Linked DNA regions of Homo sapiens. The protein of the gene in region 1 purifies or fractionates together with the protein of each later gene. This does not show direct contact. Each region holds a gene or a part of one and is shown in the gene's direction. Other genes may lie near its edges.

What was found.
Region 2: the proteins of GNAI3 (region 1) and RAP1GAP purify together in Homo sapiens (affinity purification with mass spectrometry; 4 studies listed by BioGRID and IntAct, with this or other methods). This does not show direct contact.
Region 3: the proteins of GNAI3 (region 1) and GNG5 purify together in Homo sapiens (affinity purification with mass spectrometry; 4 studies listed by BioGRID and IntAct, with this or other methods). This does not show direct contact.

The regions. Positions count from the first base shown.
Region 1 is NC_000001.11:109,586,591-109,590,245, forward strand, and holds part of GNAI3 (guanine nucleotide-binding protein G(i) subunit alpha-3), read left to right. Parts: intron 1-138; coding exon 139-292; intron 293-3,655. UniProt on the Homo sapiens protein: Heterotrimeric guanine nucleotide-binding proteins (G proteins) function as transducers downstream of G protein-coupled receptors (GPCRs) in numerous signaling cascades.
Region 2 is NC_000001.11:21,606,842-21,610,496, reverse strand, and holds part of RAP1GAP (rap1 GTPase-activating protein 1), read left to right. Parts: intron 1-221; coding exon 222-377; intron 378-850; coding exon 851-922; intron 923-1,191; exon of another isoform or gene 1,192-1,386; intron 1,387-1,560; coding exon 1,561-1,647; intron 1,648-2,146; coding exon 2,147-2,284; intron 2,285-3,655. UniProt on the Homo sapiens protein: GTPase activator for the nuclear Ras-related regulatory protein RAP-1A (KREV-1), converting it to the putatively inactive GDP-bound state.
Region 3 is NC_000001.11:84,497,670-84,500,703, reverse strand, and holds the end of GNG5 (guanine nucleotide-binding protein G(I)/G(S)/G(O) subunit gamma-5), read left to right. Parts: intron 1-2,155; 3' UTR 2,156-2,379; downstream 2,380-3,034. UniProt on the Homo sapiens protein: Guanine nucleotide-binding proteins (G proteins) are involved as a modulator or transducer in various transmembrane signaling systems.

The DNA.
Region 1 (3,655 bases):
CAACTTTATCTTATTGGTGTTTGACTTATTTCCGTGAATGCCATTTAGTGCTGCAAAACTTGTTGGTTTGTCTTTTTCATTAACTTAATCCACTTTTACTATTTGCTACTGACCTATCATCCTTTATTTCTTTTTCAGAACCGAATGCATGAAAGCATGAAACTGTTTGACAGCATTTGTAATAACAAATGGTTTACAGAAACTTCAATCATTCTCTTCCTTAACAAGAAAGACCTTTTTGAGGAAAAAATAAAGAGGAGTCCGTTAACTATCTGTTATCCAGAATACACAGGTAAGGGGTTATGAAAGATTTTATTGGAGGTACACATCTTACTTAGATCAACACTTTGGTGGCATTCATAAAACTGCCTTTTTTTTTTTAATGATTGATTGGGAGAGTATTCAGTGGTAGTGGCATTGGCATTAAGCCTGTGATTAAAAGCCCCTAAGTCAAGAGTGCCATATCAGACACAATTGAGTTTTCTGTGTTTATTTTAAATTTCTATCTTCATTTTTTGAGGAAAATACAAAAGGAGAAAAAGTAAATTTGGGAGCTGGGCATGGTGGCTATAATTCTAGCTACTTGGAAGCTTGAGGCAGGAGGATCATTTGAGCCCAAGAGTTTGAGATCAGTCTAGGCAACATAGTGACACCCCCCTGCCTCACAAAAAATAAAGTAAAATTTGGTATATGTTGAAGAAAATACAAGGGTAAATTTTAATCATTGTGCCCAAGAGACTGACATGTAGTTGCAGAGAGACATAAATAATTTTATTATAGTGTTTAATTGCACATAAATAATTTTATTATAGTGTAAAATATGCATTAATAGAAGTGGAATAGAAGTGGTTACTTCTGATGGGGTCACTGTAGTCTTTTTCTAGAGCTACTAAGAGGATGAAATAGAAATCATCAGGCAGACGGGAATAAAAGCATTTTAGAAAAGAGGAATTGCATATATGAGAATATGGAGGTAGGAAAATGGTATGACCAGTTGTGGAACCCAGAAGGAATTTGGTATTACTAGAGTTTACAGTGGCAGGGAAGAAGTGGTTGGAGAGATGGTCAGAGATCAACTCATGGAGGGCCTTATATCTCATGCTGAGACGATGATCAGTTAAAGGTTTAATATCCTACCATGATCCATATCATGGGGTGCATGATATAGAAGAAACTGTGCTTGAGAAAGATTATGCAATAAATAATAAAGATAGATAGTAGGGGATTTGAATTAGTAAGAACTCAGGATGGAAATAAAAACTTTTGATGGGGATTAAGGGATATATCATAGAACCCAAGGGCAAGAATGGACAGGTCTTAGAATGGAATTAGAACTAGGAAATAATTGTCAGGAACCCTGGAAGCACTCTTTATCCCCATCTTTTTTCTCTCCTCTCTGTGTATCTTTTTTATTATTCTTTCTTTCCTAACCAGCTTTCTCTGCTATTCAGTTTATGTGATAACAGCCTAGTCACAGTTTCTGTATCTCTGGTAAAAAGATCAGACTAGGCTGGGCGCGGTGGCTCACGCCTGTAATCCCAGCACTTTGGGAGGCCGAGGCGGGTGAATCATGAGGTTAGGAGATCGAGACCATCCTGGCTAACACAGTGAAACCCCGTCTCCACTAAAAATACAAAAAAAATTAGTTGGGCTTGGTGGCAGGCACCTGTAGTCCCAGCTACTCGGGAGGCTGAGGCAGGAGAATGGCATGAACCCGGGAGGCAGAGCTTGCAGTGAGCCGAGATCGCGCCACTGCACTCCAGCCTGGGCGACTGAGCAAAAAAAAAAAAAAGATCAGACTAGACTGGGATTGCTTGGCCTTGGTTTCAAATTCCAAGGAGAGAGATTCTGGCCGTGGTTAAGTCAGGCAGAAATCTGTAGGCCAATCAGTTGAGGTCAGGGGCACAAATGTAACTGCCAGGGATGGATCACTATGAAACTTATAGATCAGAATCAGGTATTTCCAGAGAAGGGGAACTCTTATTAGCAGAGACACTGTAAATGCTTTCTATAATAAAGTGAGGCTGGGTGCAGTGGCTCATGCCTGTAATCCCAGCACTTTGGGAGGCCGTGGCAGGTGGATCATGAGGTCAAGAGATCGAGACCATCCTGACCAATGTGGTGAAACCCTGTCTCTACTAAAAATAGAAAAATTAGCTGGGCATGGTGGTGTGCGCCTGTAATCCCAGCTACTCGGGAGGCTGAGGCAGGAGAATCGCTTGAACCCGGGAGGCGGAGGTTGCGGTGAGCCGAGATCGCACCACTGCACTCCAGCCTGGTGACAGAGTGAGACTCCATCAATCAATCAATCAATCAATCAATCAATAAAGTGAAGGGGTAAAGCAGGGGTAAGGAAGTGGGAAGAGTCAGAGGTACTCCCAGGTTTCTGTCTTGGATGCTGGTGCTGTGACCTGAATTCATGTATAGGAATGTTGATTTTTAATTATTCATAGAACGTTGAAATAATATCTCATGGACAGTTATATTCGAGGTTGAGGAGAGGTTGGGGTTTGAGATCATCAGTAGTGAAAACATGGAAATGGGTGAAATGACCTATGGAGATAATATTATAGAATGAGGAGAAAAAGGACCACAGGTAGAACGAGAGAGAATAGCAGCCTCTATTGGCAGGAGAGGAAGAAAGATATCATAACCAAAAGGAGAGGTTAAAAAGTGAGTTGATTAAATATTTCAGTCAACAGTGTTATCTGCAGATAAGTAAGATACATACTGAAAAAGAGCCTTTGGAGTTAACAGTTAGGAGGTCGTTGACCTGCTGTTGAGAGCAGTGTCAGTGGAAAGTTGAGTACAGTGAGTTACAGAATGGAAAGTGAAGAAAGAAGACAAGTGTAGACTACTCTTGAGCAACGTGGGTTTAAAGGGAAGGGAGAGATTTAAGAATGTTTATAGGCTGAGGGCTAAGATCCTATAAGCAAAAGAGATACATTAAAAAACAGATGTAATTGAAGGAGCAAGATTTGCAAGCAGGTGGGAAAAAAGGAATTAAGAGTCTAGGTAGGATAAATGGATAAACAAATTGTGTTATATACATACAATGAATATTACTTACCCAAGAAAAGGAATAATAATAGATGGTACAACTTGTATGAAACTCAAAACACTGTGCTAAGTAAAAGAGGCCAATACTTCTATTATATGATATATCCAAAATAGGGCAATTTCTGTCCATAGAGACAGAAAGAATATTAGTGGTTATGAGAAGTGGGAGAATGGGAAGAAAAGGGAGTGATTACTTAATGGGAATAGGGTGTTGAAAAAGTTTTGTCACTAGAGAGAGGTGGTGATTGCATAACATTGTGAATACACTAAGTGCCACAGAATTGTACACTTTAAAATGGTTAAATATCTGTTATGTTAATTTTCCTCAATAATTTTTTTAAAAGAGTATAGGTAGAGCAATTGATTTTTGAGCAAGAAGTAAGACACCTCTAAGACCAGAAGTACAAATAAGTGCAGATATGTAACATTTTGAGTGAGGTGGTAGGCCAAAAAGTTGAGATGTAGTTTAATCCTCATGGCCTCTGTTTTATCAAGGAAGTTGGAAATGTGGTTACCTGTTCAGAGTAAAGAACAGAGGGAGGTGAGAATAAGGTGAGTTTATAGAAAGCAACCAAGTTTTAGGATTGGGGGAGAG
Region 2 (3,655 bases), about 88 Mb from region 1:
TAGTGTACCCTCATCACCTAAAGAGTGTACGTTGTTCCAAACAGGCCATTTTTCAACTAAAATAGTTTTAAGACAAGTTTTTTTGCTACATTATTTTGGGGAAAGCAAATCCTTAGATGTGCCCTCTGACTACCCCAAACCCTCCTAAACCCCCGTGGGCACCCCTCTCCCCCATGGGCCCCCTCTGGCCAGACCACGAAGGCCCGTGGCTTTGTGCTCAGTTGCAGCGGAAGCGGCACATCGGGAACGACATCGTGGCTGTGGTCTTCCAGGATGAGAACACTCCTTTCGTGCCCGACATGATCGCGTCCAACTTCCTGCATGCCTACGTCGTGGTGCAGGCTGAGGGCGGGGGCCCTGATGGCCCCCTCTACAAGGTGGGCGCTCTTGGAGCCTCCCAGGGGCATCAGCAAGGGCCCTGGCTGCAGCTCTGCCCTCCCTGGGATGCCCCTCTGAGCCTCACTTTTTCCAGCTATAATGGGGGGACCATGGAAGGCTTCAATGGTGCACTGTTCACACCACGCCCCCTGTCGTCCCCAAAGCTCACCCCCTCAGAGAGGACAGTTTCCCTCCTCTGCCTCCTGGCCTGGTATCACTGTCCTCCACCTCCCGTAGCCTCCTCTGCCTTCACCATCCCGATGATTCCTAAGGCCCCTACCCATCTCCACCACTAAAATTCAGGGCAAAAGATAGAGGGCAGAAATCTCTGGAAGAAAGATTCATCCAGCCCACAGTCACTGGGTCTCCCCGACCAAGGGGCAGTCCAGGGAGGCACAGTAGGGGTTTCTGGCTGGGTGGGGCAGAGCAGACCCCAGGCTCCACAGGAACAGACAGCTGCCCTCCCTTCCAGGTCTCTGTCACTGCAAGAGATGATGTGCCCTTCTTTGGACCCCCCCTCCCGGACCCCGCTGTGTTCAGGAAGGTGAGGGGCACCCCCCCAGTCATGGGCAGAGCAGGACAAATGGGTGGGGGCCTGGGGGGTGCATACACATTCTGCCTTATGAGGTCCCAAAGTCTCATTGTATGCCAGGGCAGCTGGGCTCCCCTAACTGCAACCGGGGCCTGGCTTTTCCATTCATCTTGAAAACACCTTTTTTTTTTTTTTCACAAGGTCACAGGATAAACTACACGATTGTTTTACACTTTCCATAGTAGACTGGCCTCTCCTCATTTCTGTTCTCTTTCTGACAGTTCCAGTCTCTTTCTTTCTTCTAAAATGTTTGGGGAGGGGCACACTTCAAGCCTGGGCTTCAGCTCTGTACGTAGCGTGTTCTGCTACCCTAGACTGAAGCAGTAGGTTGAGACCCCAACCCAGACCCTAACATCTGTGGAGTTTGCTCTCCCGAAGGCGTGGGCAGCCATGAAGGGCACTGGGGCCCCTTGAAGGTACCTGGGGAGCTGAGCCCAGGGAGATACCCTTTTGGGAGTGAAGAGGGTGACCCCAGGCCCCAGCAGAGCATGGTTCAGGAGCTGCAGCCTCTGCCTCGTTGGGGTTCCGACCCTTGTTTATGTGTCATCTCAACTTCCCTTCCTTATCTCCTCCACACTGGGAGTTTCCAGGGGCCTGAGTTCCAGGAATTTTTGCTGACAAAGCTGATCAATGCTGAATATGCCTGCTACAAGGCAGAGAAGTTTGCCAAACTGGAGGTGAGGATGGGCTGTGAGGGCTGGGTGACCCTCTTCTCACCTTCCAACCTATAACTTCAGCCCTGTCCCTGGGAAGGGAAAAGCCATGTTCAGACCTTGGCCTTAGCGGGGACACCTGGGGCTGGATGGATTGATGGACGAGTAGGAGGTCGGGGAGAGGAAGCCGGAGGGATACTGAGGAGTTCCCAGGAGATGCTGGGAGGCGGTTAGGCTGACAGGGACACCTTGGGACCTGTCAGGTGGGGGGGTGGACCTGGGGGGTGGGGACATGAAGCCAGATCTTGAAGGGGCTTTGAGGGGCCCTTCATATGAGGGTCCCTGGGGGATGCTTGAGCTGTGGAGTGGCCTGGGGGAAGGCGGTGCAGGAGCCCTCCGCCCTCCCCACTCCCCACTCATTCAGAGAAGGTGGCCCGTGCCTCAGAAGGTGGCCAGGATTTGAACTGTGGGCCGAAGGGCTGATCCTTGGGGTCCCTCCTGACGGCCCGGGCCTGGCCCACAGGAGCGGACGCGGGCCGCCCTCCTGGAGACGCTCTATGAGGAACTACACATCCACAGCCAGTCCATGATGGGCTTGGGCGGCGACGAGGACAAGATGGAGAATGGCAGTGGGGGCGGCGGCTTCTTTGAGTCTTTCAAGGTGAAGGGCCCCAGGTCTAACTGGCCGGGGAGCAGGGACGTGGCTAGGGCGGAATCCCGGGCTGAGGCTGATAGACTGATGGACACGGCGTGGGGGTGGAGTCTGGCAGAAGGGGCGTGGCTGAGGGGGTGGAGTCCCGGACTGGGGGATTGACACAGCATGGGGAGTGCAGCTAGAGGCCGTTCGCATTGGAGTCTGAGAGGGGGCGTGGCTGGGGCGAAGTCCCGGACTGGGGCTGATTGACATGGTGTGGAGGTGTGGCTAGAGGCCGCTCGCCTGCGGGTAGAGTCTGGGATGGGACGTGGCTGGGGGTGGAGTCAGGGGCCGGGGCTAATGGACATGGCGTGGGGGTGTGGCTAGAGGAGGCTCTAGTCTGGGATGAGGGCGGGGCTCGAAGTGGACTTGGGCTTTAGAATGGGCTTACACTTGGGGACATAGTCTGCCTTGGGTAGAGTTTGAAGGAGCAGCATGTAAGGTGGGGCCCTGGCTTGGGGAGGAGTAACTGTTGGAGGTGGGGCCTAGGTGGGGAATTCACCTGGGAATTCTGCTGAAGGGTGGAGGATTCTGGGAGACAGCAAGGGCTGCTGGTACAAAGGCTGCTAGGTCAGCAGGAAGAGAAGAGAGGAAGAGGCTCTGTCTTGACTGAGGGAAAGAAATAGAGTTCTCAGAAGAGGTGTGTGAACCATGATCATTGGAGAGGGACTTGGCCTGTGTGACCTACCCTGCCTGTCCCTGGTTTAGCTTAGCATTAAGAGCACGGACACTTCAAATTTCAGCTCTGTTACTTACCAGCTTGGGCATTCTGTGAGCATCAGTTTCTTTATCTGTTGAGTAGGGTAATGGCAACTTGCCTCATACAGTTATTGTTATCTGTAAAAGAGTTAGGTTAGTGCAATACAAGTTTAAAAGCAAAATGCAAAACCTTGCCTGTCTGCCTCAGCAAATGTTGTCTGAAATGAGAAGTGTGGGGAGTGGAGTAGTTCCTGGACAGGGTCTGGACTCACTCAGGCCACAGGGCCCCAGGTGGTAGCCTTTTTGCCACCGTCTCCTCCACCCACAGGAGGATAACTGCCCATCCTCCAGCTTCCCGGCCGGCTGGTCACACCTCACCCTCAACCCAGGACAGGTCACACAGCTGGAGCTATGGGTTGGAATAAGGGAATTAGCCCGGCTGCCCAGGCCTGCCCAGGAACTGAGGTGAACAGATCGTCTTTGAGAAAGAGGCTTGGGGACTGGAGACAGGACAGGTGGGGTCAATATGGATCTGGGGTGTCTCCTTTGAGGAGGGCTCCGATGGTCCCACATCTGGTAGGTGCTGGACGGTGGACCTAGATTAGGTCAAAGAATTTCTCAGAAGCAGCGGAGTCCAGA
Region 3 (3,034 bases), about 25 Mb from region 1:
GGGGGAAAAAAAGCCCTTTGAAAACAGGTGTCATGTGCACAAAAATGCACATGAAGAAGTAATTCACTTTCATATTTAACAGTTTATTATAATATCCTTTGTTTCTGGTACTATTCATTTAATTCTTCATGGTAGTTTTTGGAAGTTTCATATTTTTATGGTTTATTAATGATTGTTTTTTTAACCTCAGTTCTTGTATTCACTTTACAGTGGTTTATTTTCATTTGAATAAAATACTGGGCAGCTGTTAATAGTTTTACTTCATAGGAATCTACAGATAAGTGTTTAAATGAATTGCTCAAGTTTAAAAATATGGCTGGGGGTAAGAACCCAGAAGGTAAAATAATGTCTATTAATCCCAGCAGTATAAGAAAACAGCTTTGTGGATATTAAGATTTGCAGCAGTTTGGGCTAGGAGAATAATAATTGGGCATCAAAGCATTGCTTCTCAAGCTTGAATATATGCAAATCACTTTGTTAAAATGCAAATTCTAATTCAGAAGGTCTGAGGTGAGTCCCTAGAACTTGCATTTCTTACAACTGCCCACCTACACTGATGCTGACAGTACTGGACCTACACTGAGTGGCATGAATGTAAAGAATCTACATTGGAGTTATGTATATAAATACAGTTTTATCACTGGAGTGCAGTGGCGCAGTCTCGGCTCACTGCAACCTCTGCCTCCAAGGTTCAAGTGCTCCTGCCTCAGCTTCCTGAGTAGCTGGGATTACAGGTGCACACCACCACGCCCGGCTACTTTTTGTATTTTTGGTAGAGACAGCGTTTCTCGAACGCCTGACCTCAGGTGATCTGCCCACCTCAGCCTCCCAAAATGCTGAGATTACAGGCGTGAGCCACCGTGCCCGGCCCTGTATTTCCTTTTAAGAGGAAATTTTACTATTTTTTTTGAGATTCCAGCTTTTGAAATTTTTCCTCTTTTACACAAAACAAAATAGAATAACACAGGATTAAAAACTGTTAATCAGTAGAACATGTATGCACAAAAAAATGCAGATAAGACGACAGGCTTATTGACAGTATTCGCCGTTTTTCATTCTGCCTTTTTTAAATGAATTTATTTCATTAAATACTCTTTGTAAACAAGATATTTAATGGTTGTACTAAACTATGATGGAATTATACTTCACTGAATATTTAAGTTTCCAAAATTTGAGGTTACAGTGAGGTGAAGATTTTGGTGAACATCTATATATACTTAGTACCTCTATTAAGTTTCTAGAAGTAAAAAGGAGTGAACGTTTAACATTTTTACAACGTTGTACTTGATATCCCCTGCCAATATAATACTTTGGCCTTCCACTAGAAACATGAGAATGTTTTTTCCTTGAGTCCTAACAAACCTTAGTCTTTTCTGTCACTATTTTAGGTGAGATTAAACATTTTTCACAGCATTCTGTTTATGCCTTTTCAACATTTTTGTCACAGACTATCTCAGATTAACACTTTTGTACCTTTCCATATCAATAACTAATCCTAAAGTTAGTATGCTCATGTTTTAATTTTTTAGTACACTGTTTTTCAATTTAATGTTTTCATTTTTTAAATCTTTTAGTTTATACTCTATTAAACTGAAATATTATGGTTTGAAAACATAACTTATTTTTTAAGGCATAACTTATAATAGCTTTGTATTCCATCATATGTAGAAACCTTCGTTTATCCATTCTCCTACGGAGTTATATTTAGGCTGTTTCAGTTCTTTGCTGTTAAAATACTAATACAGTCAGTATCCTTGTACATGTTTCTCTATGTCTGGGTTTATCTAGGTAACTAGAAGTGTGGTTGCATCCTTTACTTCACTAGATACTGCCAAACTGCCCTGCTAAATATAGTCTTGCTCATTTTTCTAAGGATGTTTGGATTTTTGATTTAAGAGAGTTTTATTAACCTTTTTTATTATATACAGAATGTATTTTGGCAGTAATCTTAGCAAGTTAATCTGTAAGTCTGTTTATAAAACAGGAATGACTTATACATCAGAGTGGTTGTGAAAATTAAGGGAAAGATTTTACTGTTACTGGACCATAGGCATTTCCCATCCTGCTTCTTTTAAGTTATTCATGAAAAAAATTAAAAACTATGTTCTTTGATACTTTACCCTAACTCACCTTTTTTTTTTTTTCCCCATCTTAGGTTTCCCAAACCACTCCTTATGATCCAGTGAATATTCAAGAGAGCTACATTTGAAGCCTGTACAAAAGCTTATCCCTGTAACACATGTGCCATAATATACAAACTTCTACTTTCGTCAGTCCTTAACATCTACCTCTCTGAATTTTCATGAATTTCTATTTCACAAGGGTAATTGTTTTATATACACTGGCAGCAGCATACAATAAAACTTAGTATGAAACTTTTATTTTGCATTATTATTGGTATTAAATACATGGTATATTAATCTGTTCTGAACACCTGAAGGGGTTAAGTTTGTACAGTTTTTTCCACCTACTCTTCTCACATGACTTTATGCCATACATCTGGCAAGACTGCTAGGGAATTAAAGGTAAACTGTGAACCTTTATTCTTTTAAGGTCAGGAGGAGGCTGTTAAGTTCTACGGGTTTCCATCCATGAGTTACTTATAGGGTTAACTTTGTTTCAGTGCCTGAATGGAGTACTACAGCACCATGTAATGAGGTAAAAAAGAGCTCCCCACAACGTGGGCACAAAAAACCAAAAACCTCAAAATCAGGAAGCAAAGATTAGCTTCAGTAATTTGCAACTTTGCTTTAAACCCTGGTAGATCATTTTGCTTTAAATTTTTTACCCTTCTGAAGGCTTAAGAGAATGTTAAAACATCCAGAAACCTGGCCTCCATTTAAGCTATTAAAACTGTGCCAGACACTGGGAATCCAAGGTTAATCTGGTATAAAAATCAAGGGTTAGCCAATATTTACCAACCATTTTATTCCTCTCATGTGTTCTATGCAAATAGGAAAGTTAATCTGAATCTTGATTCCAACTTAATTATTCACAGTTACCCAAAAACAAGAGAACTAAGTTTAAGGAAACC